Homo sapiens: one gene and its partners. The protein of the gene in region 6 interacts with the protein of the main gene of each other region in a pairwise test. Each region holds a gene or a part of one and is shown on either strand. Other genes may lie near its edges.

Region 1 (4,088 bases), on a different chromosome or scaffold from region 6:
ATGAAAGATTAATTTTGGTTTAAGTTTGCACTTACCCTGGCACAGGATCCACTGGTATAGCAGCACACTCAGAAGAACTGCAGTCAGAAGCCCCAAAGCTATTGCCACAAGGCAAGAACAAGAAGGCCTGGAAGAGGAAGCTGCAACAACAGAGTCAAAGCACAATCCTGAGTCAGATGACAGGTTGAAAGAAAAGAGAAAGTCAGGGAAGGATATCGCATCTTAAAGCAATTTGGCCTAGTGGGAACTGAGATCCAGGCCATAAAGATTCCTTTTCTAGATGTGTCAGGAACTTGCTCTAAAGTCTAAGGTAACCACCAACACCTGTATCAAAGAACTTACTATATTTATCAAGATAAAGAATGCTTTTTTCCTTTGAAACTGTGACTTACACTGTCTCATACTTAGGTGGTGAGAATACAAATTGGTACCTCTTTGGAGGACAATTGGGCAATATCTACCAAAACGGCAAAGGCATGTACCCTTTGACCTAGAAATTTCTCCTTAAGAAATTTTTCCTACAGATACTCGCGGGTGCAAAATGTCATATTTATTCGTGGCAGCAATATTTGTAGGAGGAGAAGACTGAATACAATCTACATTCTATCAGTAAAAGGCCAGTCAAATACATTTTTGATATATCCATAAAGTGAATATATAGCTTCTAATAAAAACTGGCTTTTTTTTTAACTGATATGGAATATTTTGTAAGATATATAGTCAAGACAAAGAAACATTCTGCAGAACAGGATATACAAATATCTCTGCAAGCACACTCAAGAATCTGATAACATTGTTTGCCTCTGGAATGGAAAAAACAGTCACTGGAGACAAAATAGGAAAAAGACTTTTTACCCTATTTTCTTTTGTACCTTTTGAATTTTGAACCATGTAAACATATTATCTACTCGAAATTGAAATACATAAAATTTAAATAAAAATAATCTACATTTCAGAAGTGCTTTGTAAACTGTCGTTATTAAAAGAGCAGTAAGTTTAAGTTGATGCCAAGTTTAAGAATAGGACACTACTTCATGTTAGCTGTGTTGCATACAACCGAAATCTAAATTTTAAATTTGAAAAATGGAAGTATTTTCAGCAAATCTTTATTTTAAAATCAAAGGTATCTCATAGTGCAATAGTGTAGAAATTACGTGTAACGAGCAAAACTCTGTGAAGTAAGATGATATTTAACTTCTAATTTTGATTCCTTTGCTTAATAACATTTAATTAGGAAATTAAACTTGCCTATTTGGGCTTCAATTTTCTGATTAAATTTTAGATAAATTATTCTATATATGTGTGTATCTATGGAGTATTCTGAACTTCTTAAAGAAAAAAATTCATAATGAGAGATGCCTTCATAAATAGAGAATTCTGCATAATAAATATTTGGACTGATGAATCCAAAAGCATTAAGATTTCTAGAAAAACTTTTAAAAATACATTTGCATCACAGGAGAACATTTAATGAAATACACAAATGTTCATTTTTATGTTATGCTAAATTTTAAAAAGGTATCAAACCATAATTGAATTTGTGTAACCACAAGCCAATTCAAGAAGTAAAGTAAATTTTTAAAATTTACTTTAAGTATATATTGAAAGCCTCTAAATAGTTCCAACTAGGTTCCAATTTATCACCAGTTGTGTGTGTGACCTTGAACATATACTTTGAGATATGCATTACTTCTAACGTAATATTTCTATTCCTTAGAAATTAACATAGATACAATTCAAAAATAGGAAAAGGTTACACAAATAAAGATATCCAATGCTATATAATTTATGGTAATAGAAATAGGTCTAAATATCCCAAGTATACTAGAATGATTTAGCAAATTAAGGCAACACTCTCAAAAGACATTAAAAATTATAATAGTAAAACTATGTAGTAAAAAGAGAGAAAGCTTAGGGAACTACCCTAAAGAATACACCTTGTGGGAGTTCACTGCCTACGATACAAAATCAAGGATTAATTTTGGCATTTACACTATTACCTGTCTGTCTCAGATAATATTCTCTCAGGGCTCTATGTAAAAATGGCTCTTTTGCCTTCAAATCCTCAGTCACAGAGACTATTATCTGTAGTTTCTTGATACTTTTTCTTCCCTGTCACCATTCTAGTGCAACACTGTGAAGTTAAAAAAAAAAAACAAAACTAGATATGTAAATCAGTTTCTTTCCTGACAAAAATCTTACTCGTATCCACCAGCAAAACTATTGGTGTCCTCCTCATTCCATAGTCAGAAAAACAGCCATACCTAGAATTTAAACAGCTGGTCCAAGGTTACTCCGAATATAACTAAAGAGATAAAATTCTCCCAACAAAGTTCCCGCTTTAGCTAAGAGCAAGAAGGAATAACGGCAATGCCCTAAGTTGGGTTTCTAAGATGCGATCAAAGAAGTGAACAGTTAGAAAAGAGTTTACCTGAGACCTAAGATCAGATCCTGTACCATACACCAACTTTTCATATTCCAACTCTGGACTTTAAACTGAACCAAAAGTATTTCCTCAAATTATCCTCAATTCTTCTGCACCCTCTGCTTTAAACTTATTCTACTCCCCATTCATCCATAGCCTACTGTTGCTATGCATCGTCTTCCATGCTACCTTGGTTAACTCACATTTTTGCTGTGGTCCATAGTCATTCTGGGCTTGGGTTGCCGTAGGCAACTCTAACATGGAATAAATAACACTGTCAGTCATCTTCAGCTAAGATCTTTCACATGCAGTTGAGAGAGTTAAATTATAGAAGTGTGAAGGGATATGTATCAGTGAGGAAACAGCCCAATCTCTAAACTGCTAGCAGGAAACTTCACAAAAGCAGAAGTAATTTTTCAGGAAATGATTCAAATTTGGGGGCTGCCTATAGAAATTAATATTGTAAGTTGCTATTTTTTTGCCCCATGACACTGTAGATGCTCACTAAATATATATTAAATTGATTCCCCATCTCACCTAATTCTGTTGAGCAAGGAAAAATTGCTCTCAAGTCCAGCAATTTCAGTTATGGAAACTAAAATAAAAGTGAGAGTGGTTACTAGCTATGAATTTCTCTCGGAATTTTTTCTCTGCTTTGTTTCCTTCTGAAAAAGTAGATGTATGCCAAATGAGACTGACTTCATCATTTCTTGGAACTTTTGGGCAGTGATAAGCAATAACGAAATGGACTGTTGGGTGCATATGCCTGGAATCACGGGAGAAATAGACTATTACCCAGATATATTTTGTGAATATGACATGACCACATCTTCCCCAAAACCTTGTCCAAATTGTGTGATGGTCTTTACCCTTCACAGTATCAGAAATTCCATTATATTTTTTCTCTTTGTTGTCTTATTTTTTTTATTATTATACTTCATGCAAAGATAACTAAAAAGAAGAGCAAAGTAAACAAATACATTCTAACATCTTAGTAATTTGTTTTTAGTAGGTGAAAAGTTAATAAAAAGTTAGAGTAGGCCAGGTGTGGTGGCTCACGCCTGTAATCCCAGCACTTTGGGAGGCCAAGGAGGGTGGATCACCTGAGGTCAGGAATTCAAGACCAGCCTGGCCAACATGGTGAAACCCCGTCTCTACTAAAAATACAAAAAAATTAGCTGGGTGTGGTGGTGGGGGCTGTAATCTCAGCTGCTCAGGAGGCTGAGGCAGGAGAATGGCTTGAAACCGGGAGGCGGAGGTTGCAGCGAGCCGAGACTGCACCATTGTACTCTATCTAGCCTGGGCAACAAGAGTGAAACTCCGTCTAAAAAAAACAAAAGTTAAAGTAAGGAAACAGAAAGAGTATTGAAACTCTTAAGAGTGGATAAGATCATCAAGATAGACTGCATAAGGATAAAAGAAGAGAAACAGGGAGTGCTTTATATTAATTTGTTTTATATTAATAAAAACAAATATATTTCTGCTTCCAGCCATGACAGAATGGCATTAGACTTACTCTCCAATCAAAATACAACACATGGCAAGACACACAAGGCAGCTATTTTCAGGAACACACAGGCAGCATTGTGATCCTTGAGAGAATACAAAGGTGAGTGCAATGATCACCCTAGCTTTCTATCTAGGACCACTTTCTAGTACAGAG
Region 2 (3,500 bases), about 14 Mb from region 6:
GGCAGCCATGTGACCCTGCTGCTGGCTAGTTGGTGCCAGGATCCAGGGCTCCAGGCAGCTCGTCCCAGCTCGTCCCAAGCACTCATGGGACGGCTCCCACATTGCTTGGGTTGTAAACACTGTAGTACACACTGTCCCATCTCCTGCCTTTCCCGTTTCACCACATAGAGCTGAAAGCCTGGCATCTCGGCTGCGGTGGTTGTCTGGCTGTAGATATTGGAAGTGGGGAATGGCTCCTGCCCTACTGGGTGGCATTTCAGAGCCCCCAGGGGCCAGGTAGGGCCAGGTGGGTCCGGGCGGGGAATGCAGAGTGGTGCTGGGAGAATCCCAGCTCTACCCACCGTTGCTCTGGGATGGGAAGGACCTTTCTCCAGGCGGATGCTGGCTGTGGTGTCTACCCAAGGCCGAGCTCTGACCCGTCTTTGGGGCTGTCGGTCTGAGTTTTCCCCGTGCAGGTCGGCATGGCTCAAGTGCACAGCCCCTCCATACTCATCAGCAACTCGATAGAAGCTACTTAGGTTGTTGCTTAAGGGGCCCATGGTCTCTCCTTGAAGGTATTCTAAGTGGTCCTCCTAGGCTGAGCCAGGTTGCCAGGTGCCCAGAGCCAATCCGTGTGGCTCTTGACAGAACTCCTGTTCTCTGTGTGAAGCTCCGGGCGGGGAATCCCGGTCTGACCCAGGCACTGATGATCAGTGTTTCGGTGCACCAGATCCTTTGCTAAGTGCCCCCTCTGCTTGTCACATTTCATTGTCGAAAGAGCCCTGGGTCAGTCCAGTACTGGCCCCAAAGATGTCCCCGTCCTAAGACTGGATGGAGCCTGTGAATACGTTACGTTGCGTGGCTGGGGAATTACGATTGCAGGTAGAATTAAAGTTGCCAGTCAGCTGACTTTGGATAGGAGATGGCCCTAGATTATCGTGGTGGCCCAGCGTGATCTCAGGGTCCTTAGAGGTGAAAAACAGAGGCCGGAGTGTCAGGGTCAGAGTGGTGCCACGTGAGCAGGACTTGAGCAGCCACTGCTGGCTTTGAAGTGGAGGAAAGGGCTGAGAGCCAGGGGCCTCTAGAAGTTGGAAAAGGCGAGGAAGAGGATTCTCCCCCGAAGCCTCCGGGAGGAATGTAGCCCTGATCATGCTTGACTGGAGCCCAGTGAGACTCATTTTGGACTTCTCACTTCCAGAACTGAAAGTTGAGAAACCGGTGGTGTTTTAAGCCACGAAGTTGATGACAGTTCGTTACGACAGCAGCAGGAAACTAATGTAAACCCTGTGCCTTGTGTTATTATCCCCCTTTACAGATGCTGCCACTGAGGTCACAGAGTTAGTAACCCAAGGCAGAGCCAGTACGTGGCAGGGCTGGTTTTAAATTGAGTCAGGCTGGCTCTGGGCTGCTGATTACATTTCCCTTTTCACTTTGGCCACTAGGAAGCTTAGATCCACACATACGCCCACTTCCTGGCTCTTGGTTTTTCCTTGTCCTTGTTTGGTGGCCCTTTCACCTTTTCTTTTATGTTTTTGCTGCTTGCGATGTTGAATACACCTCGTGAGTTTTCCCTCAAATGCAGTTTGGAACAGGATGGCTCTGGATGGGCTGATGGATGATTTCTCCTCCCCTTTGTGTTCTGGCCTTTCTAGGAGGGTGAGGACAAAATCTTCTTAATCAACAAGCTTCACTCCATCTACGAGAGGAAGGAGAGGGAGGAGAGGAGCAGGTGAGGGTCCGTGGAGGGATTGGGGACACTCTGAGCCTGGAGGGGAGAGGGGCCAGGGCTGGACAGTAGGGCTGCCACTGGGGCTACACCACGACATTGCTGACACTTGACCGCTTTTGACCTACAAAAATCTCCCCCCCGGCGCCCACCTTCACTCTCTCTAGAGCCTTCTCTGGCCTCCGGAGCCTGGCCATTTTGACAGGGACCTAAAATACATCTCAGGAGAAAGGCTGTGGGGCGTCTGGCCTGTCCCTCGCCGGGCCTTGGCTGCGCCCAGCCAGGTTGCAGGGATGTTGATGTTTATGGGGTCCCCTCAGTGATGTCTCTTTCTGGCAGGGTTGGGACAACCGAGGAGGCTGCGGCACCCCCTGCCCTGCTCACAGATGAACAGGATGCCTAGGGGGACGGCGATGGGCCTCACGGGCCCGCCCAGCACCCTGAGACCACACTGTTGCCTCCCAGTGACCCTGCTGGGACACCAGGACAAGGAAGACAGTTTCGCCTCTCGAAAGCCGCAGCTGCGCCTAGGCTGGAGCTGGAAGGGTGGGTGAATCCGGCTTGGGCATCCCCAATGAACTCTGCCCTGCCTGGGACTCTATTTATTCTGATTAAAGGGGTTTTGCAAATGGGCTTGTCCCTTGGGGCTCTGTGTCTGTGACCACACCCGGGGCCTGCTTCCCGCTGCCCTGGGGCCACCTCCAGGCGCAGGTCTGGGTCCTGGGAACCTCAGCTGGAGTGGGGGCGCCCTCTGCTGGCCAAGCCCCAGATGGCAGGGGCTGGACCGCGCCAGGGCTTGATTCGCTTGCTGCCTTTGACCAGCCTGAACTCGCGCCCAGGAGGGGCTTACACCTGCACAAGTGAGCCGAGCAGGCACGGATTGTGACCAGAGCGATGCGTCAACCATTGGGTGATGCTGTAGCATCTACTGGAGCAGGAGACAAATTTAGAGAGGGACTTGGAGGGGAGACATATCAGTTGCAAATGAGTTGTGGGGACAGTTGCCTCCCAGGCATAGGTAACCAGCACCTGTGCTTGGAGGCGAACAGGGCTTGGTGAGGTGGGGCTGGCCCCCTGCTTCTGGCTGCCAGCAGCTGGCTGGGGGGTGGTGATCCTGGGTCTGACTGGGCTGAGTTTGAGGAGCCCGTGGGATACCGAAAACCGTAGGCTGTGGGGGGTGGGCACAGGGATTCGGGGACCAGCCCGTCATGACCCCGTGCTCCAGGTCTGCAGGGACCAGCCCATGACAGCCCAGGGCTCCAGGTCTGCGGGGACCAGCCCATCACAGCCCAGGGCTCCAGGCCTGCGGGGACCAGCCCGTCAGCCTCAGTTCTCCAGGCCTGCGGGGACCAGCCCGTCATGACCCCAGTGCTCCAGGTCTGTGGGGACCAGCCCGTCAGCCTGTGCTCCAGGCCTGCAGGAACCAGCCCGTCAGCCTCAGTGCTCCAGGCCTGCGGGGACCAGCCCGTCAGCCTGTGCTCCAGGCCTGCGGGGACCAGCCCGTCATGACCCCAGTGCTCCAGGTCTGTGGGGACCAGCCCGTCAGCCTGTGCTCCAGGCCTGCGGGAACCAGCCCGTCATGACCCCAGTGCTCCAGGCCTGCGGGGACCAGCCCGTCATGACCCCAGTGCTCCAGGTCTGTGGGGACCAGCCCGTCACGGCGCAGGGTTCCAGGCTTGTGGGGACCAGCCTGTCACAGCCCAGGGCTCCAGGCCTGCAGGAGCTGCGCTTGGGATTGGGGGAATGAACCCAGGTGGGGAAATGGTCAAAGAGCGATGGGCCCAGAAAAGGGTCA
Region 3 (3,500 bases), on a different chromosome or scaffold from region 6:
GCGTGAGCCACCACGCCAGGCCAGAAACTGTAATTGTATATTTCTCTGTTCACTAATTCTTAAAGCAAATCTTCCAATTCTCTTTGTAATCTATTAGTAATACTTTACTCTTTTTCGTGTCTAATTAAGGTAGACCCTCCATAAAAAATCAGTAAGTAACCTCTAAAGTAGTTCTTTCTCATTCTGAGCATTTGGACAATGAAAGTGTACAACTGGGCTAATTCAGTTAAACGTATCATTAAACGATGTCAGAATTAACAGTGTGGCGTTTTGCTTATATAATCATGTTCTACTAAAATATTTAATGCTTAAGAGCACTTTATTTTGCTTCAATTCGTGTTTATGTAATGGAGGCCTACATACTTTTCAGAACAACATATTGTAAATATGTACACATGTACGCGTGCCACAAAAAATGCTGTTTCCATTTGGAAACAGTATATACTTAATAACAGTAAGTTTTAGCCAAATTAACAAATATATTGGAATTCTCTACAAGTTTAGTAAAGATGGATTATTCTAGGATCAACATTTATCTCTCCTCGTGGGTCAGTAGGCTTCCTACATTCCCTTATTTTTCATTAGTTGTTAGGAAGCTCAGAAAGAATTTTTGTGCTGACTTGCAATAGATTTTCTTAGCCAATCATGTTTTAAACATAACTTTGTCCTCTATTTGCCTATTTAGCTTTTCTATTCTCTGTTAATAGGTATTTATCCACATTTTATTGTAAGCTATCCCATAATCTTTTATAATTTGAAGAGGTATAAATATGATTTATATTTATCAGTGTGATTAAGTTTGAATTGCGATATTTAGTTTTTTATTTAATATAACTCAGAAAAGACTTACTTGCCAATTTTCTTTTACAAATCACACCTAATATAATGTTCTTATTGTCACCCCATGGACTTTAGAACAAGGTTCAAGATATTTGTAATTCAAAGACATTACAATTTGACATAACCTAATGTTTCTCTCTCATTTTTCATTATCCTCCCCACTCTGCTTTATAATTAATCCATATCAAAGTACTCATTTTCCTTCGAGTAGCCATAGTATTTAATCCTTTTGCCTTTTACTTCAATCCTATATGCCTTTTACTCAAGTCATCCAAAAAATTTTTACTTTTTTTCAAGACCAAATGACACTTTCCATTTGGAATTACTCATATCTCATTGCACTTTTATTCAGATTTGTATCTGACTACTTAAAATGTTATTTCAAATTCAAGGAGAAGAACTTGAGCTCACATTACATAATGAATAAGAATTCAGCAGGCAGAGAGAAGGTAAGGGAATGGCAAGATAAAAGCTACAGAGAGAGAAATGCCAGTAGCAGAAACCCAGGAGACTACATAGTTTAATCTGAGGGTAGGTGAAGTCTCAGGTAATAGTGAAAATGAGAGACAAGTTTGGAAAGAGTTTGAGTCAGAGTGTGTAGAGCATTGAATATAACACTGAGAGGTAGACTTCATTCCACCATAAAAGGACTTGAAGTTTTTGACTGGGAGATTTATGTAAAAATGATGTATGAGGCAGTTGTGAATCCTTTTCTTATAGCAGAAACTCATTGCTTTAGCTATGTTTGCTTTTGAGAGCTTATTCTAAATAAAGTTATAACCAATACACCATGTTTTATCATTGTTTAGGATGAAGTCAGATTCTTTTCTCCAGGAAATGCCAAATGTAACTAATATACCTCATGGGGACCCCATGATCAACAATGACCAGTGCATTCTTCCAATCAGTTTAGAAAAAGAAAAACAGAAAAACAGGAAGAATCTGAGCTGTACCAATGTGCTCCAGAGCAATTCTACGAAAAAATGTGGAATTGATACAATCGATTTAAAAAGAAATGAAACTCCACCAGTTCCTCCTCCAAGAAGCACCTCTCGAAATTTTCCCAGCTCGGATTCTGAACAAGCCTATGAAAGATGGAAGGAAAGGTTAGACCACAACAGCTGGGTGCCCCATGAGGGTCGAAGTAAAAGGAATTACAACCCTCACTTCCCTTTGAGACAACAAGAGATGTCTATGTTGTATCCAAATGAAGGGAAAACTTCGAAAGATGGTATCATCTTTTCCTCTTTGGTACCAGAAGTCAAAATAGATAGCAAGCCTCCAAGTAATGAAGATGTTGGACTTAGCATGTGGTCATGTGACATTGGGATAGGTGCAAAAAGGAGCCCCTCTACTTCGTGGTTTCAGAAAACCTGCTCTACCCCCAGTAATCCAAAATATGAAATGGTGATCCCAGATCACCCTGCTAAATCTCATCCTGATCTTCATGTAAGTAATGACTGTAGCTCCTCAGTAGCAGAGAGCAGTAGCCCACTTAGAAATTTCAGTTGTGGCTTTGAAAGGACTACAAGGAATGAGAAGCTGGCAGCAAAGACTGATGAATTTAACAGAACTGTATTTAGAACAGATAGAAATTGTCAGGCAATACAGCAAAATCACAGCTGCTCAAAATCATCGGAGGATCTCAAGCCCTGTGATACCTCATCTACTCACACAGGTAGCATATCACAAAGTAACGATGTGTCCGGTATTTGGAAAACCAATGCCCACATGCCTGTGCCCATGGAAAATGTGCCTGATAATCCCACCAAGAAATCCACAACAGGCCTAGTAAGACAAATGCAGGGACACCTAAGTCCTCGCAGTTATCGAAATATGCTCCACGAGCATGACTGGAGACCGAGTAATTTGTCTGGCCGTCCGAGGTCAGCTGATCCCAGGTCAAATTATGGTGTTGTGGAAAAGCTGCTGAAAACCTATGAGACAGCAACAGAGTCTGCATTGCAAAATTCTAAGTGCTTCCAGGATAATTGGACCAAATGTAATTCTGATGTCAGTGGTGGTGCCACATTAAGTCAGCATTTAGAAATGCTCCAAATGGAACAACAGTTTCAGCAAAAGACAGCTGTGTGGGGGGGACAGGAAGTGAAGCAAGGAATAGATCCGAAAAAGATAACAGAGGTGAGAAAGCAAATATAACATAATTTGGTAGCATCCATATTAGCAATGGCTCTGAATCATGTTTATATGTCCAATTCATATAAATAGAATGAGGGCACAAGTTTTGGACTCTTCTTAGCCTCTTGACCCTGTTTGTAAATAAATATAACTCAACATGAACCTTGAAGGTGTAGTTTTTAACACTGAGAATAGTACATTGTAACTTTTGAAAAATTCTGAAATGGGATAACATAAATACAGTAAGTGGATTTAGGAACCTGAAGAAGATCAAATGTTTGCTCTTTCTTGAAAAAATACTCAGAATGGACATTACTCAATTTATAGAATTTCATTATTTTAAAGGTTCTTTTTTAAGTGTATGGAAAATATTTTTAAAATCGTTTTCATTTTTCAGTTATTAACTATGATTGGTTCAGTCATTCTCAGCATTTGACTCATGTTCTTTCTCATAGGATTAATCACATTAATATGAATATGGGAAATACACATCATTTAAAACAGTGCCTAATAGAGTCCTT
Region 4 (3,500 bases), about 25 Mb from region 6:
GTTGGTGGGGAGTTCTCAGCAAGGAGGAAGTAGGGGCCAAGGGCCTGACAGACAGCAGCAAACTCCCCCTTGGCATCCAGACAAGTCATTCTCTCCCCGAGGGGCAGCAGAGGTCCCAGGAGGGCCACAGGCCAGTGCCCCCAAGCAGACAGGACACACACACACACACACACACAGTGGCACCTTACAGCTAGACACACACACACACAGCAGCACCTTACAGCTAGAGACACACACCCACACACAGACACACACAACAGCAGCTCAGAGCCAGAGAGGAAACCAAGTCCGCAGGTAAAAATTATACTTTTATTTGAGTCACCAGGAGAAAGATTCACTTGTGGTTCAAGTCAAATGTTCAGAATCATAACAGGCCAGAAAGGTTTGATCCCGAGCACAAGCCCACGAGGGAGGGGACCAAAACAGACCAAAATGAGACAACAACCCCATATAAAAAGATGAACTGGCGGCTTCACACACTCACACACATACACATACACACGGATGAAATGTTTGGACAGAGGCAAATTTCACGTGGTCATTTCTGTTTCTTTTTAAATACAGGTTTGTAGGGTGGTATTTTGTTTTTTCCAGCTATAAAAAAAGGCCCAAAAGTGCATGTGTGAGGGGGGAAAGGCAGAAATTAAGCAATAAAGTCATTTTCCCTGGAGGGACATGAGAGGGAGAAAACAGGAGGCAGTGCTGGGAGAACGCACTTTCCTCACCACTGGGCTTCTTGTTATTCTTAGTATTGGTCCACAAAAGTTATATTCACATTCTAGCTTTGATGCCTCTTTCCTGGGATTAAATGAGCTGAAAGACCTCTGTGAACTGTAGAGAAGACCAGGGGCTCAGCCCAGCCCAGCCCAGCCCCTCAGGGCTCTGTGCTCTTCTAGGGATGGATGGTTTTGGTAAAGAACAGACGCCCAGCAGCCCCCGGTCACTCAGCACCAGTGTGACAGTCCCTCCTCTCTCTGGGGGTGTGTAAGAAAACGGCCCCTATTTTTAGGACAGGAAGAGTAGAGGGAGGGCCTGCAGCAAGATTCCATGACTGGCTTGCCTTATCTGGGAAGGAGAATTAAGCTGAGTGAAAACAGGCTGCTTCTTGCTGCTCCTCCCTTCCACTCACCACTCTCCCAAACTCAGGTCCTCTAAGGGGATGTGTCCCTGACCTTTGGTCCCCAAATCCACATTGTGCTTTGAGATCAAGAGGAAACAGAATGCACCAGCGCCACCCAAGACTCCCAAGAGATTCTCTGCCTCCCCGAGCCCCCAAATCGCCCAATATAAGATATTCCACTTGCCTCCACCTAGGCTGGGGCCAGAAAGGAAAAGGGATGGGTCAGGCAGGGCCTCCCCACCCACAGTCTTTTCCTCAACCTCTCATTCGGGGCAAACATCCCCAAATCAATTAACAAGCAGTTGACAAAAACACCCATGATGACTGATTGTTGAACAGGCCAATACCTTCAGGTCCTGCCCCTCACCTGTGGGTACAAGTGTGCCAAGGGACAAGAGGCCAATGGCAGGGCCTGGTTGGGCTCAGGATGAAAATGGGATGGGGACTCCCAGAGGGTGGCAAGAAAACCAGAGATGAATCAAGTGAGGCCAGGGTTGTCACAGCCACCCATGAGCAGAGAGCAGGAACTGGATATAGCACCGTCTTTCCCTCCCCATCCCCGAGGCTGTGCTTCCAGTTTTGCAGCCCTGGGACCCTCTTTCTTGCTTCAAGGGAGCTTTATGTAAGTGAGGGGGAGGTCTAGGGGAAGAGCCCCCGAGGGAGACACCCACAGGGTGACACTTCTGCCACCCTATTCTGTAGCCCCAGACAGAGATGGGGAAACATATGCCTGGAGTGACAGAGCCTTCCTCCACCGCTTAGCCCCAGCAGGCTGCAGACCCTATGGCAGCCCCAACTCCACACCAACCTCTTACCTTCCACCCTGCACACTGCAAAGGGCAGATTGGTGGGCTTCCTCCACTCAGAGATGGGGGGAAGGAGGAATTTCATTCCAAAGAAAACCTAAGGAACTTCTCTGCCCCAGGAGCCCTCCCCTCTCACTGTGGGTTCTGAGGAAACTCTCAGGGGAAGACAGCTCTTCATACCCTCACATAACCCCACCCACACACAGGCCCAGAGACACCTACAGACACACCCCCGCCCCATCTCTCACACTCACACTCACACACTTGCGTGTCAGACACCTGCAGACATACATGCTCCTGCCTCCGCACACCAGGTCTTGGAGATTTAGTGGTCCCTGCTGACTTTGTGCAGCTCCAAGTCCACTTGGCATTGGGCTGGGGAGGGGAGGTCATGGAAGGCTCTGAGACATCTTCCCATGAGGAGCAGGGAGGAGCGGCCACCTAACCCAGATCCTGGGGGCTGAGGGAGGCTGAAGACCAAAAGGTCCTGAGGCACCCTTGCCCTACACTTCGGGACCATGGCTTCCAGCCTAGGAGGCAGGCAAGGGTCCCTGGAGACTGGGGGTGGGCGTGGGGAAAGGGGCTGCGGAAGAGAACTCCTTGTTCCCCTCCTTCCGGTAGCTGTCCCTAAAATTAAGAAAGGCAAGAACCTGACCCAAGCTGTGCTTCCTCGGGAGCTCTTTGCCCGCTGCAGGTCTGCGTGGGCAGGAGGGCAAAATCACAGTGTGCGAAGGAACGCGCGGGGAGGGGATGAATTCGCCCCACAGCAGGAACCCCATTCTCCTGTTGTTGCCCCTGAGGAGGGAGGTAGGGAGAGAGACCCCAGGTGGGCAGAGCCCCCTCTTTGAGAAAGAGAGGTAGAGCCCATCCCACTGGTCCCTACACAGCGGCAGAGTCCCCATCGCCATCCCAGGAACCAAGAAGTGGATCCCACTCTGGGGAATGTAGGGAGCCCCTGACCTGGGGTCCTGGCAGTCAGGCTCACCCCAGCCCTGGAATGTGTGGGTATGTGAGGAGCTGGGCAGGAGGATGTGAGGGGAGAGAACAGAGGGGCAGGTGAGGCCCACAGGCCAACAGGTCTCCCATTCCAGCCCTGCCTCCCCCAGAGAGGCCCATGCCCGTTCCATCCAGAGAGAAAACCAAGAAGTCGATCAAGGGGGAAGCCTGCCAGAGGAGGGAGCCCGCAGAAGTGGCAGAAGAAGGCTTCAGTTGGCAAAAGAAGCTGGAAGAGGGGTAGGAATCACAAGCTGTCGCAGGTTTTAAAAAACAGAGACACTGAAGAATGGACGGGTCACGCCCAGGACGGATGCGATGCCGTGGAATGTGCTGAAGACAGATGGGGGCGCTGCGGGTTCAGATGGCCTCCACGTAGTTGGCCGGCAGCATCCCCGTGTCGCCGGTGCGCTCCACCGTCCCGTACATCCAGCCGTCGTCGATCTGCTGCACGTTGACGATGGTGTCCCCGTCCTGGAAGGAGACCTCGTCCTCGTCGGCGGCGCTGTAGTCATACACCGCGCGGTACCGCTTCTGTGGGGGAAGTGTGGTCAGCCTAGGGCCCTGCATGCCGGCTCACC
Region 5 (3,500 bases), on a different chromosome or scaffold from region 6:
GAAGCACCCAGGGACTCACAACCACAGGAAGCTGTTACCATTGAGTGCAAGGAGAGGGAAGAGTGTTACTGTAGTCAGGTGAGGGCTAGAGCCATGAAAGGGGACTCACCCAATAGGAGCAGGCTGTGGCTATAGGGAAAAACAGCTGCTGAAAGAATTGGGCCAGGCAGGAAGGGAATCAGAAGACAAACACCCTGACCTCTCTCTCTGCTCCTGCCCTCCCATCTCCTTCAGGGCCTGGCATTGGCTGAACCCAGCTAGAAGCCAGAAGACAAGGGAACCAGGGCAATGCAGAACTTAGAGGTTAGCCTCTGGGGCACACAGGAGGGCCAAGAAAGTTGGAACCTAAATGGGATGGGGGAGTTAATAAAGAAAAACCAACATTGGAGAATGAGTTATGGGCAAGACAGGGCATGAAGTACAAGACCAGGGTTTGAGTGGTTGTAGGCTGAAAGTCTTGGATCAGTGCATCAAGTTGCAACTGGAGCTGGGGACATGCTTGGGGGACCAGGGCATGGTTAAGGTTTGGCACACAGAGGGTCTCATTAGTGGTGAGAAATCGGTAATCTCTTCTTTGCCTAAGGTCCTGACCAATATATTCCTTTGGTCCTAGGGGAGCCCTCCCAGCCTCCCAACAGCAGTTGGCCCCTAAGTCAGAATGGGACTAACACTGAGGCCACCCCGGCTACAAACCTCACCTTCTCCTCCTACTATCAGCACACCTCCCCTGTGGCGGCCATGTTCATTGTGGCCTATGCGCTCATCTTCCTGCTCTGCATGGTGGGCAACACCCTGGTCTGTTTCATCGTGCTCAAGAACCGGCACATGCATACTGTCACCAACATGTTCATCCTCAACCTGGCTGTCAGTGACCTGCTGGTGGGCATCTTCTGCATGCCCACCACCCTTGTGGACAACCTCATCACTGGTGAGTGCGGGCAGTTGGCAGCAGGAGTGTCCCCTACCCCCCACTTCAACTTCTCAGATAAGGCTGGAAATCAAAGCTTAGAAGACAGATATCATTGCTGGGCTGGCCTCTTGGCCATGCCGTGGTCTCGAACTCTCAAGACAGTCTTGGGGCTGAAGAGTTAGACTAGAAATAAGAGATTTAATGAATTTCCTGTTTTCTTTGTGCCTGGCATGATGTTACTTCTCATGCATTATCTTAATTCATCCTCACAACAATCCAGTGAAGTAGAGTTTATGGTCCTCCCCATTTTATGGAAGAGGAAACATGCTCGGAGTGGTTAAGAAACTGGTCTGTAGTTACACAGCTAATAGGTGTCAAGGTCAACATTCTCACACCCATACTTCTAATTATTGTATTATACCATTCAGTCCCACTCTCTCACGGAGCTCGCATGGGCAGAATTAGAGCCAGTGGGGAGAAGTGGAAGGGAGGCAGGTTTCCTCTGAATCGGGAACGAAAACTCCACTCATTTGAGCTGGAAATTGAGCAGGGCACAGAAGAGAGTCCTGCCTGTAAGTAATGAGCTCTCTGTCCCTTGGAGTGTCTAAGCAGGGACTGGCCGGCCACTCAGTGGACCACTTGACCTCTAAATTCCTGCCGGTGCATCCTGCAGATGTCAGAACAGTGCCATCTACTCTCTACTCTCTCATGCGACTGGCCTTTCTTGTTTTAGAATCAAGTTTCCACCAACCTGAGACTCCAGGTGAGGGACTGGTTTTCAGAGATATGGAGACCCCTAGAGGTCTGAGCCTGCAGATTCTGAGCTCAGAGCTCCCAGCAGCTCACTGGTCCTCAGGATCCAGAGCCTGGACAGCCCTATTCAGAGTGACTTCACTGACTCGGGGCAGAGGGAGCCACAGCCCACGTTTCTGTAGGTTCTAGGACCCAGGATGTGGAGCCAGTGCAGAGTCAGCTCCCCTCCACAGTACCAGCTCTGTCTGGTGGAACCGTTACCCACTGCTGAGTCCCAGCTTCCTTTGCCAATGCTGAACATAAACTGCATTCCTCTCCTTTCCAACACATAGACACACACACGTGTACTCAGGCACACATGTGCAGAGATGCACACATGCATACACATAAATACATGCATACCAGTCAACAGTGATATAATGAGGTCACTAGCTGGTTAAGGTGGCGTCTCCCCATCTTTTTCATACACTCATATTTAAAATATTGTTTGAATACATAAAACATTCAGATGATTCAATAGTCAAAAACTACCAAAATTCTCCAGTGAAAAATCTCCCTTCCGCCCCTGTCCTCTGGCCTCCCAGCTCTTCTCCCTCCTGGGAGGCAACCAGTGTTGCCAGTTTCTTGTGTCTCTTTCAAACACTATTTTATGCGAGTGCAAGCAAATTGAGGACATGCTAAGGTTCCAAACAGCCAGTCCCGTACTTTTACTTCCCACCACACCCCACTTAAAAATATACCATGTATGCTGTAAAAAAGATTCATTAAAATAAACTTACATGTTGTTATCCCATATTAATAAATAAAAGAGTTTCTCACTATTTTCACCAACTGCTTAGAATTCCATTGTATGGATGTACTACAATTTATTTTGATTTGTATTTATGTTGTTTCTAATAGAATCTTCTGCAATTAAATAAAACTTCACACAGCTTCACTATTTTTTCTTTCTTTTTTTTTTTTTTTTTTTTTTTTGGAGTCTCACTGTCACCCGGGCTGGAATGCAGTGCTGGGATCTCGGCTCACTGCAACCTCCGCCTCCCAGGTTGAAGTGATTCTCCTGCCTCAGCCTCCCGAGTGGCTAGGATTACAGGCTTCTGCCACCACACCCAGCTAATTTTTGTATTTTTAGTAGAGATGGGGTTTCACCATGTTAGCCAGTCTGGTTTTGAACTCTTGATCTCAAGTGACCTGCCTGCCTCGGCCTCCCAAAGTGCTGGGATTACAGGCATGAACCACCACACCGGCCTCTTTTTTTTGAGACAGTCTCACTCTGTCATCCAGGCTGGAGCGCAGTGCACGATCATGGCTTACTGCAGTCTCAACCTGCCTGGGCCCAGGTCCTGGGACTACAGGCATGTGCCACCACCAATGGCTAATTTTTCTATTTTTTGTAGAGATGGAGTTTTGTCATGTTACCCAGGCTTGTCTCAAACTCCTGGGTTCAAGCCATCTGCCCGCCTCAGCCTCCCAAAGTGCTGGGATTACAGGAGTGAGGCACCATGCCCAGCTTTTTCTTCCTTTCTTTCTTTTTGTTTTGTTTTGTGTTGGTTTTGTTTTTTTTTTAACTCACATACAGAAGGTTGAATCATTCATTCAGTTTACAGTTCATGGCACTATGTGATTTCACTCTGTTGCAAAGCTCTTCTTTTGTTTATTTGTTTCCTTCTATATACCTATTCCACTCTACATCTCTTCTCTGACCCATAGGCAGCCATTCTGTTATATTTCTGTCTTTTGTATGCATTCTCAGAAAATGTGCTGTGAATGGCCGGGCGCGGTGGCTCATGCCTGTAATCCCAGCACTTTGGGAGGCCAAGGCGGGTGGATGACAAGG
Region 6 (3,500 bases):
GGTGGTGGTTGTGGCGGTAAAAACTAGGTCACTGTTTTTGTTGTTTTGTCGATGATATTTGTGTTAAGATGAAGAGCTGAGACTCATATCTCAACAGAGTTTATAAAATGCTTTTCTTTTTTCCATCCTGCCCTCTCTTCTCCCTTGTCTGTTCGAGCTAGCCATGGGAATGTGGTGTTCCTGCCAGTGCATCCATTGAGTTCGTTTATTGTTAATTTATTTATTTTCTGAGATGGAGTTTTTGCTCTATTGCTCAGGCTGGAGTGCAATGATGTGATCTTGGCTCACTGCAACCTCTACCTCCTGGATTCAAGTGATTCTCCTGCCTCAGCCTCCTGAGTAGCTGGGATGACAAGTGCCCGCTACCATGCCCGGCTAATTTTTGTATTTTTAGTAAAGGCTAGGTTTCACCATGTTGGCCAGCGGGTCTCGAACTCTTGACCTCAGGTGATCCACCGACCTAGGCCTCCCAAAGAGCTGGGATTACAGGTGTGAGCCGCCACACCCTGCCGAGTTTGTTTATTTGAGCAGATAATGTGTGTTAGAGTTGCTTAGAAAAACAAGATGGTGGACGGGCCCCATGCTAGTGGGTACCATCCCTACTGGAAAAACCACTGCTTGGTGCATTAGCCAAATTTGCTTTAAAATTGTTTTTTAAAAAGGGAGGGCTTTTATAAAAATCAAATGAACTAGGACTGGTTAGTGGGAGGCTCACGCAAGGGTTGTGCTGAGGCTGGAAGGCCCAGAGTAGGAAGAGTTGTGGAGTGCAGAATGAGCTCTCCAAGGGCAGACACTGCCAGCCTCACTGTTCTCTGAACCCCCAGTATGGGGGACAGTGCTTGGCACAGAAAAACCCCCTTAAATGTTTGCTATGAATGGTGCTAAGGAAGAAGGCAGAGAATGTCAACCAGAGGCCAGGCACTGGGCAATATATACACGGCCCCTTCTGTGCCCTCAGCCACTTTGGCGCAGTCACTGTTTAGGTTAAAGATACCAGAGAAGGCAGGTATTCATGTTCCTACTTCGTAGGCAGAGACGTGGTGGCCCAGAGAGGTTAAATAACTCCCGAGATCACCCAGCTAAGCACTGTGGGATCACGGGTTTGAATCTGGTATGTCTGACTCCCTTCTGTACCCAGCACTGTCTGCTGGTCTAGGGCATAACCAGCCAGGGATGGGCAGCTCGTTCAGTAAACAGGAGAGCAGATGAATGACTCGTGTGGAGAGCACGCAGTGGAGTGAGCAAAACTGGGAGGCTGGAGAAGTCGCTTTAAATTAACCTGAAAATGTTTAATATGCTTTTTATTTTGTTTATTTTTTTTGAGATGGAGTCTATCTTTGTTGCCCAGGCTGGAGTGCAGTGGTGCAATCTCGGCTCACTGCAATATCCACCTCCCAGGTTCAAGTGATTCTTCTGCCTCAGCCTCCCGAGTAGATGGGATTACAGGCAACTGCCACCACGCCTGGCTAGTTTTTGTATCTTTAATAGAGATGGGGTTTCACCATGTTAGCCAGGAGGCTGGTCTCGAACTCCTGACCTCAAGTGATCTGCCCAGCTCAGCCTCCCAAAGTTCTGGGATTACAGGCATGAGCCACCACGCCCAGCCTTAAATATGGTTTTTATTTGAAAAAAAAAAAAATCCCTAGAAACATGTAGTGGAGACACAGCTTTAAAGCTCTGAATAGTTGATTTTCAGCTCATGCCTGTAATCCCAGCACTTGGGGAGGCTGAGGCGGGATGATTGCTTGAGGCCAGGCGTTTAAGAATAGCCTGGACAACATAGTAAGACCCCATCTCTAAAAAATTAAAATTAAAAAATAAAAAAAGAGTCGACTTTATTTCTGTAACTGGAAGAATCTAGCTAACATTTCTCAAGCACTTTATAGGTGCCAGGAACTCTACTTTAAGTAATTAAACTCAGGTTCTCATTTATACTTACATTCCTTGTGCCTATTGTATGGATAAGCAAACTGAGGCTCAGAGAAATTTAGGGACTTGCCAAAGGTCACACAGCTTTGTTAGTAGCAGAGATGAGATTTGGCCCAGGTCTGGCTCCGTGCACTTGATTTCTGCTCTTTAGTATCTCCTGGTTGAGTCACTGGAATACACAGCATAGCTTAAAATGAAGGAGGAAGTACTGAAGAGGTAATGGAAGGAGACCTAACTGTCTCTGAGAGGGAAGAGAGTGGTTGGGAGGGAACTATATTAATTGAGGAGTGCAGAGAAATTAATATGGTCCAAAGGAAAAAAAGGTTTTTTTGAGATGGAGTTTTGCTCTTATTTCCCAGGCTGGAGTGCAATGGCATGACCTTGGCTCACTGCAACCTCTGCCTCCCAGGTTCAAGCAGTTCTCCTGCCTCAGTCTCCCAAGTAGCTGGGATTACAGGCGCCCACCACCACACCCGGCTAATTTTGTATTTTTAGTAGAGATGAGGTTTCACCATGTTGGCCAGGCTGGTCTTGAACTCCTGACCTCAAGTGATCCACCCGCCTCGGCCTCCCAAAGTGCTGGGATTACAGGCATAAACCACCGTGCCCGGCTGGTCCAAAGAAAGTTGTGTGTCGAGAGCTCATCCAGCAGGCTTCTTAAATCAGGAGCTTGTAAGTTGCATATAAAGACAAAAAAGGGAGTTCCAAAGAGTAATGCTGTGGGAAATGACTTGAATTTAAACCGTCACCTTGTTTCATCTCATGGACTGGTCAGACACCATTTTTGTTGTCGTTGTTGTTGTTAAATTAATTGCTCAGAATATAGCAGCAGGCGCAAATTGTAGTACTCGTTTTAAAATTGAAGATTAAATTTTAAATTACCCAACAAAGGCCTAACTTTGTTAAAAGAGAGGGAAAGGACAGGTTCTGCCAGTATCTCTGGCCAGCTAGCTAACTAACTTTTTTCTTATTCCAAAAAAATGACTTGGGACCACTTATAAAAATTATGTATTGTTCAATGAGATACAATTAATGAGGAAATCAGGATGAGAGAAAAATAAAGGCAGGGAAATAAAGCTATGGCCCATTTAGCACAAACGCATCCCAAAGATTGCTAGAAGCAGAGGTGAAATTTTTGCTGTGTGTTAACAATCAAAGCAAAAAGAGGAACAAGGTCCATTAGAACATTCTCAGAATCCACAAGATAGAAATGAATCAGTTGTTCAGCATAAACACAGTGTTTCCTGGTGCTGTTGGAACACTTTGTGAAATTAGGGACAATATCTCATCAACATCCCAGACCAACATCCCAAAAGACCATTTAATAGCTTGCATCTGTGCTTCTCCCTACCCCATAGCCCCTCCCTCCAGAGATGACCACTATGCTGACTTGTAAAATATTAATCTTATATCCAGCCACCTTTCTTTTTCGTTTGTTTGTTTGTGTTTTTGCAGACAGAGTCTTATTCTGTCGCCCAGTGCAGTGTTGTGATCTCAACTTACTGCAACCTGTGCCTCCCAGGTTCAAGTGATTCCCCTGCCTCAGCCTCCCAAGTAGCTGGGATTACAGG
Region 7 (3,500 bases), on a different chromosome or scaffold from region 6:
TTATGGGGGAAAATGCTCAATGACTAGGAATCAGCAAAAAAACACCTCCACCATGTGGTGCTTCCCCTCCAGAAGAACTACCAGCCCTCAGGAACAGCACCCGCTCCCCTCAGAAAAGGACAACTCAAGGGTAAGCTGCAGCCACAGACTGGCCCAGAACATAAGCAGGACAGGCAGGAGACGGAGCCCAACCCAGAACAGTGACGTGAAACAGATGGGCAGGAGTGTGCCCTTTGCCCCAGCCTGATGCAGCCCTTCCCACAGGTGGTGGGGAGGACAGGCGCGCCTTGCTAAGAAACTGTCTCGATAGCACTATTATTAATCTTTTGGTCATTTTTCATCAAGCGGTTTTGTGCAATTCATGATGCTGTTTAAATGACCACAGTCATTATTTGAACGCCATCTGTGGAAAGATAAATGTATACTTAAATTGTGGGTATAATTTTAACTAGTTTATTCACTCATTTTACCTCATTTTGTCTAGTTTTAACTATGATTTTGAGTTATCCTTTTCCAGATCTTCTTCATCCTCAATAACCCAATTTATAGAGTTGACCACATGTTTGTTTTTAAGCATATGTAAAATCACTGGAATCATACAGGTTAGGGTGGTAGAAGTGGGTTTTAAAACCCCTTTCTCTGTTTTAATCCACAATAAATCAGTAAGTACTAACACTGTTTATGATAGCAAAAAATAGAAACAACCCATATATCCAGCATTAAAGGAATTAAATTATAGTCCATCTATATACAAGGGAATATAGTGAAGCCATAAACGTGATCATACAGTCCTGTATTTTTTGACAGAGTCACAACGTATTAAGTAAGAAAAGCAAGTTAGCAGAAGGTGGAGTAGGCACAGGATGGAAAAATATTACGTTTTTCACTTCCGGATTGTATGACTGAAGGTAATTTGTTTTTCTTTCTGCGTATCTCTAGTTTCTGATTTTTCTACAACAAACTATTTAATTTCAAATAGATACATTTTAAAATTGGCAAAACAGAAGTAAAAATTAGGTGGAAAATGATACTAACTTGGTTTCAAAGGCCCACCAAGGAGGCCATCTGTTAAGAGTAACTCATATGCAAAATAAGCCACATGGGAACAGAGACACGTATCAAGCTCACAGGCAGGCGCGGGCTTACCTTCAGCCCAGCTGCTACATGCGGTGGAGTGTCCACAATTTGCCGGTCATCTGAGGAGCCACCTCGCTTCAGGTCAATGACTGGGGCGAGGACTGTACTTTGTTTCGTCCTTTGGCTCTAAAATCATCAAAAACAAGGAAAACATACTGAAGTTTCAAATTAAAATTCACACTGTTTGCAACAAAGATTTTCTTTCTGGTCCCTGCAACAAACCTTTGAGATATGAGAAAACCATAATCTCAAAACAACAGCCTTTTAATTTATTACTATAATCATATATTATTTTCTTTCAGCTTTTTCAAAAACATGAGATTTTCTCCATTTCTGTGAAAGGTTTACAGTAAACTTAGTCACTTTCAAAAGATACTTGGGGATAAGAGTTTTGTTCCCTCCTACTAGGATATAGAATCCTTCCTATCTCCTTTATTATGAATCTACAAAAAAAAGTTTTTAAAAGAAAATCATTTCTATACATTCAATTATTGTTAATGTTCTACCATACTTCTTGCCCTTACACCTGTATTTTTTGCTAGACCATTTGAAAGAAAGTTGGAGACATCATGACACTTCACCCCAATCTCCTGAAACCGTGGACATTCTCCTGTCAGATTACTACCCCTAATAAAATCACTAATTCCCATGTCATTTCCCATCCAGTTCACATTCAGATTCTCCAAGATATCCCAAAAATGTCCTTTAAACAGCTGATTTTTTTTTTGAACCAGGATCCTACCAAAGTTCCTGAAATGCTTTTGGTTTTTAAGTGTCTTGATTAAGAACAGTCCCTCTTCCCCATCATCATCATCACCATCATCTTCATCTCCTCTTCCTTTTTTTCCTCTGACACTATCTTGTAAAATGCTGTTTGTTCTAGATCTGTCTAATAACTACCTGGTTATTTAGTTGAGCTTGTTCCTCTATGCCTTGTAATTCCTGAAACCTGGAGGTTAAAGGCCTGATCGAATTCAGGGTAAAGCTTTTAGGCAGGAACACTTCCCAGGTGAGGCAGTGTGCCCCTTCCTGCAACACACAGCAGGCACACTGCGTCAGGCCGTCTAACAGCAATGCTAAGGTTGATCATATGGGTATGGTGGTAACCATTAGATCTTTTGATTAGAAAGGTTTAATTTTTCTCTTTTGCAATTTAAAGTGTTACAAATTTTCATTACCACTATAAAAGGCACAAAATAAGCCTTCATCTCTCTTGAATATAACAATACTTATAAATTTAAGCAAACAAAATTTAATCCAATTAACAACTCACAAAGTAAATACGAAAGTTTACAGAACGGAAGGGGGATTTATTAGAATCACATATTTTCTTTCTTTCTTTTTTTTTGAGATGGAGTCTTGCTCTGTCACCAGGCTGGAGTTCGATCTCGGCTCACTGCAACCTCCGCCTCCCAGGTTGAAGCAACTCTCCTGTCTCAGCCTCCAGAGTAGCTGGGATTACAGATGCACGCCACCACACCGGGCTAATATTTGTATTTTTATTAGAGATAAGGTTTCACCATGTTGGTCAGGCTGGTCTCAAACTCCTGACCTCAGGTGATCCACCCGCCTTGGCCTCCCAAAGTGCTGGGATTACAGGTGTGAGCCACCACGCCCAGCCAGAATCACATATTTTCTATTATTATTATTTTCTATTCAATATAGAGTTGGCCCTCTGTATCTACAGGTTCCACATCTAACCCCAGGCTGAAAATATTAAGAAAATAAAACAATACAACAAAAAATACAAATAAAAAAACCAATACGGTATAACAACTTTTTACACAGCATTTACATTGTGTTAGGTATTGCAAGCAATCCACAGATGATTTAAAATATGGGAGGATGTGTGTTAGTTACGTGCAAATACCACACCATTTTATATAAGGGACTTGGGCACGCTTGGATTTTGGTATGGGCAGGGGGGTCCTGGAACCAATCCCCTGTGGACACCAAGAAACAACTGTATTTTTTCAAATGGAGATACAAATGAAACCACAGCTTCAAATTTTCTCTACCAAATAAATACCTTTACAGGTTTGGCTAGGCCAATCTAGTATTCTGAGTAACTAAACAGCCTAAGAGAATGCAATCTTCACTTCCCTTAAAAAAAAAAACCCACAAAACTAACTGTACATAGCAATCTCAAAAGTTTTATAAAGTTAGTAGAAATAACTTCACAAGCTACCTCAAGTTTTAAAAATCTATATGAGGCCGGGCACGGTGGCTCACACCTGCATCTTCCCTGCAAAGCAAAAGTTACATGAAATCTACAAAGATTTTATAAATGTACTTTTAAAAAAAATTAAAGAGAAAAACGAGGTTTTGCTAACCCTCCTTACATTTGGAATGAAACCTTGTTT

The links.
Region 1: the proteins of PECAM1 (region 6) and KLRG1 interact in binary tests that used the Homo sapiens proteins (3 or more experiments, as listed by UniProt).
Region 2: the proteins of PECAM1 (region 6) and TMC6 interact in binary tests that used the Homo sapiens proteins (3 or more experiments, as listed by UniProt).
Region 3: the proteins of PECAM1 (region 6) and KIAA0408 interact in binary tests that used the Homo sapiens proteins (3 or more experiments, as listed by UniProt).
Region 4: the proteins of PECAM1 (region 6) and LASP1 interact in binary tests that used the Homo sapiens proteins (3 or more experiments, as listed by UniProt).
Region 5: the proteins of PECAM1 (region 6) and NPFFR1 interact in binary tests that used the Homo sapiens proteins (3 or more experiments, as listed by UniProt).
Region 7: the proteins of PECAM1 (region 6) and RBM17 interact in binary tests that used the Homo sapiens proteins (3 or more experiments, as listed by UniProt).

The regions. Positions count from the first base shown.
Region 1 is NC_000012.12:8,988,258-8,992,345, reverse strand, and holds the start of KLRG1 (killer cell lectin-like receptor subfamily G member 1), read right to left. Parts: upstream 2,801-4,088; 5' UTR 2,711-2,800; coding exon 2,629-2,710; intron 2,135-2,628; exon of another isoform or gene 2,001-2,134; intron 141-2,000; coding exon 36-140; intron 1-35. UniProt on the Homo sapiens protein: Plays an inhibitory role on natural killer (NK) cells and T-cell functions upon binding to their non-MHC ligands.
Region 2 is NC_000017.11:78,111,756-78,115,255, reverse strand, and holds part of TMC6 (transmembrane channel-like protein 6), read left to right. Parts: intron 1-1,631; coding exon 1,632-1,708; intron 1,709-2,044; coding exon 2,045-2,108; 3' UTR 2,109-3,500. UniProt on the Homo sapiens protein: Acts as a regulatory protein involved in the regulation of numerous cellular processes. Together with its homolog TMC8/EVER2, forms a complex with CIB1 in lymphocytes and keratynocytes where TMC6 and TMC8 stabilize CIB1 and reciprocally.
Region 3 is NC_000006.12:127,445,890-127,449,389, reverse strand, and holds part of KIAA0408 (uncharacterized protein KIAA0408), read left to right. Parts: intron 1-1,649; coding exon 1,650-2,982; intron 2,983-3,500.
Region 4 is NC_000017.11:38,918,558-38,922,057, reverse strand, and holds the end of LASP1 (LIM and SH3 domain protein 1), read right to left. Parts: intron 3,454-3,500; coding exon 3,280-3,453; 3' UTR 288-3,279; downstream 1-287. UniProt on the Homo sapiens protein: Plays an important role in the regulation of dynamic actin-based, cytoskeletal activities.
Region 5 is NC_000010.11:70,263,505-70,267,004, reverse strand, and holds part of NPFFR1 (neuropeptide FF receptor 1), read left to right. Parts: intron 1-613; coding exon 614-928; intron 929-3,500. UniProt on the Homo sapiens protein: Receptor for NPAF (A-18-F-amide) and NPFF (F-8-F-amide) neuropeptides, also known as morphine-modulating peptides. Can also be activated by a variety of naturally occurring or synthetic FMRF-amide like ligands.
Region 6 is NC_000017.11:64,380,861-64,384,360, reverse strand, and holds part of PECAM1 (platelet endothelial cell adhesion molecule precursor), read left to right. Parts: intron 1-3,500. UniProt on the Homo sapiens protein: Cell adhesion molecule which is required for leukocyte transendothelial migration (TEM) under most inflammatory conditions.
Region 7 is NC_000010.11:6,099,034-6,102,533, reverse strand, and holds part of RBM17 (splicing factor 45), read right to left. Parts: intron 1,264-3,500; coding exon 1,147-1,263; intron 1-1,146. UniProt on the Homo sapiens protein: Splice factor that binds to the single-stranded 3'AG at the exon/intron border and promotes its utilization in the second catalytic step. Involved in the regulation of alternative splicing and the utilization of cryptic splice sites.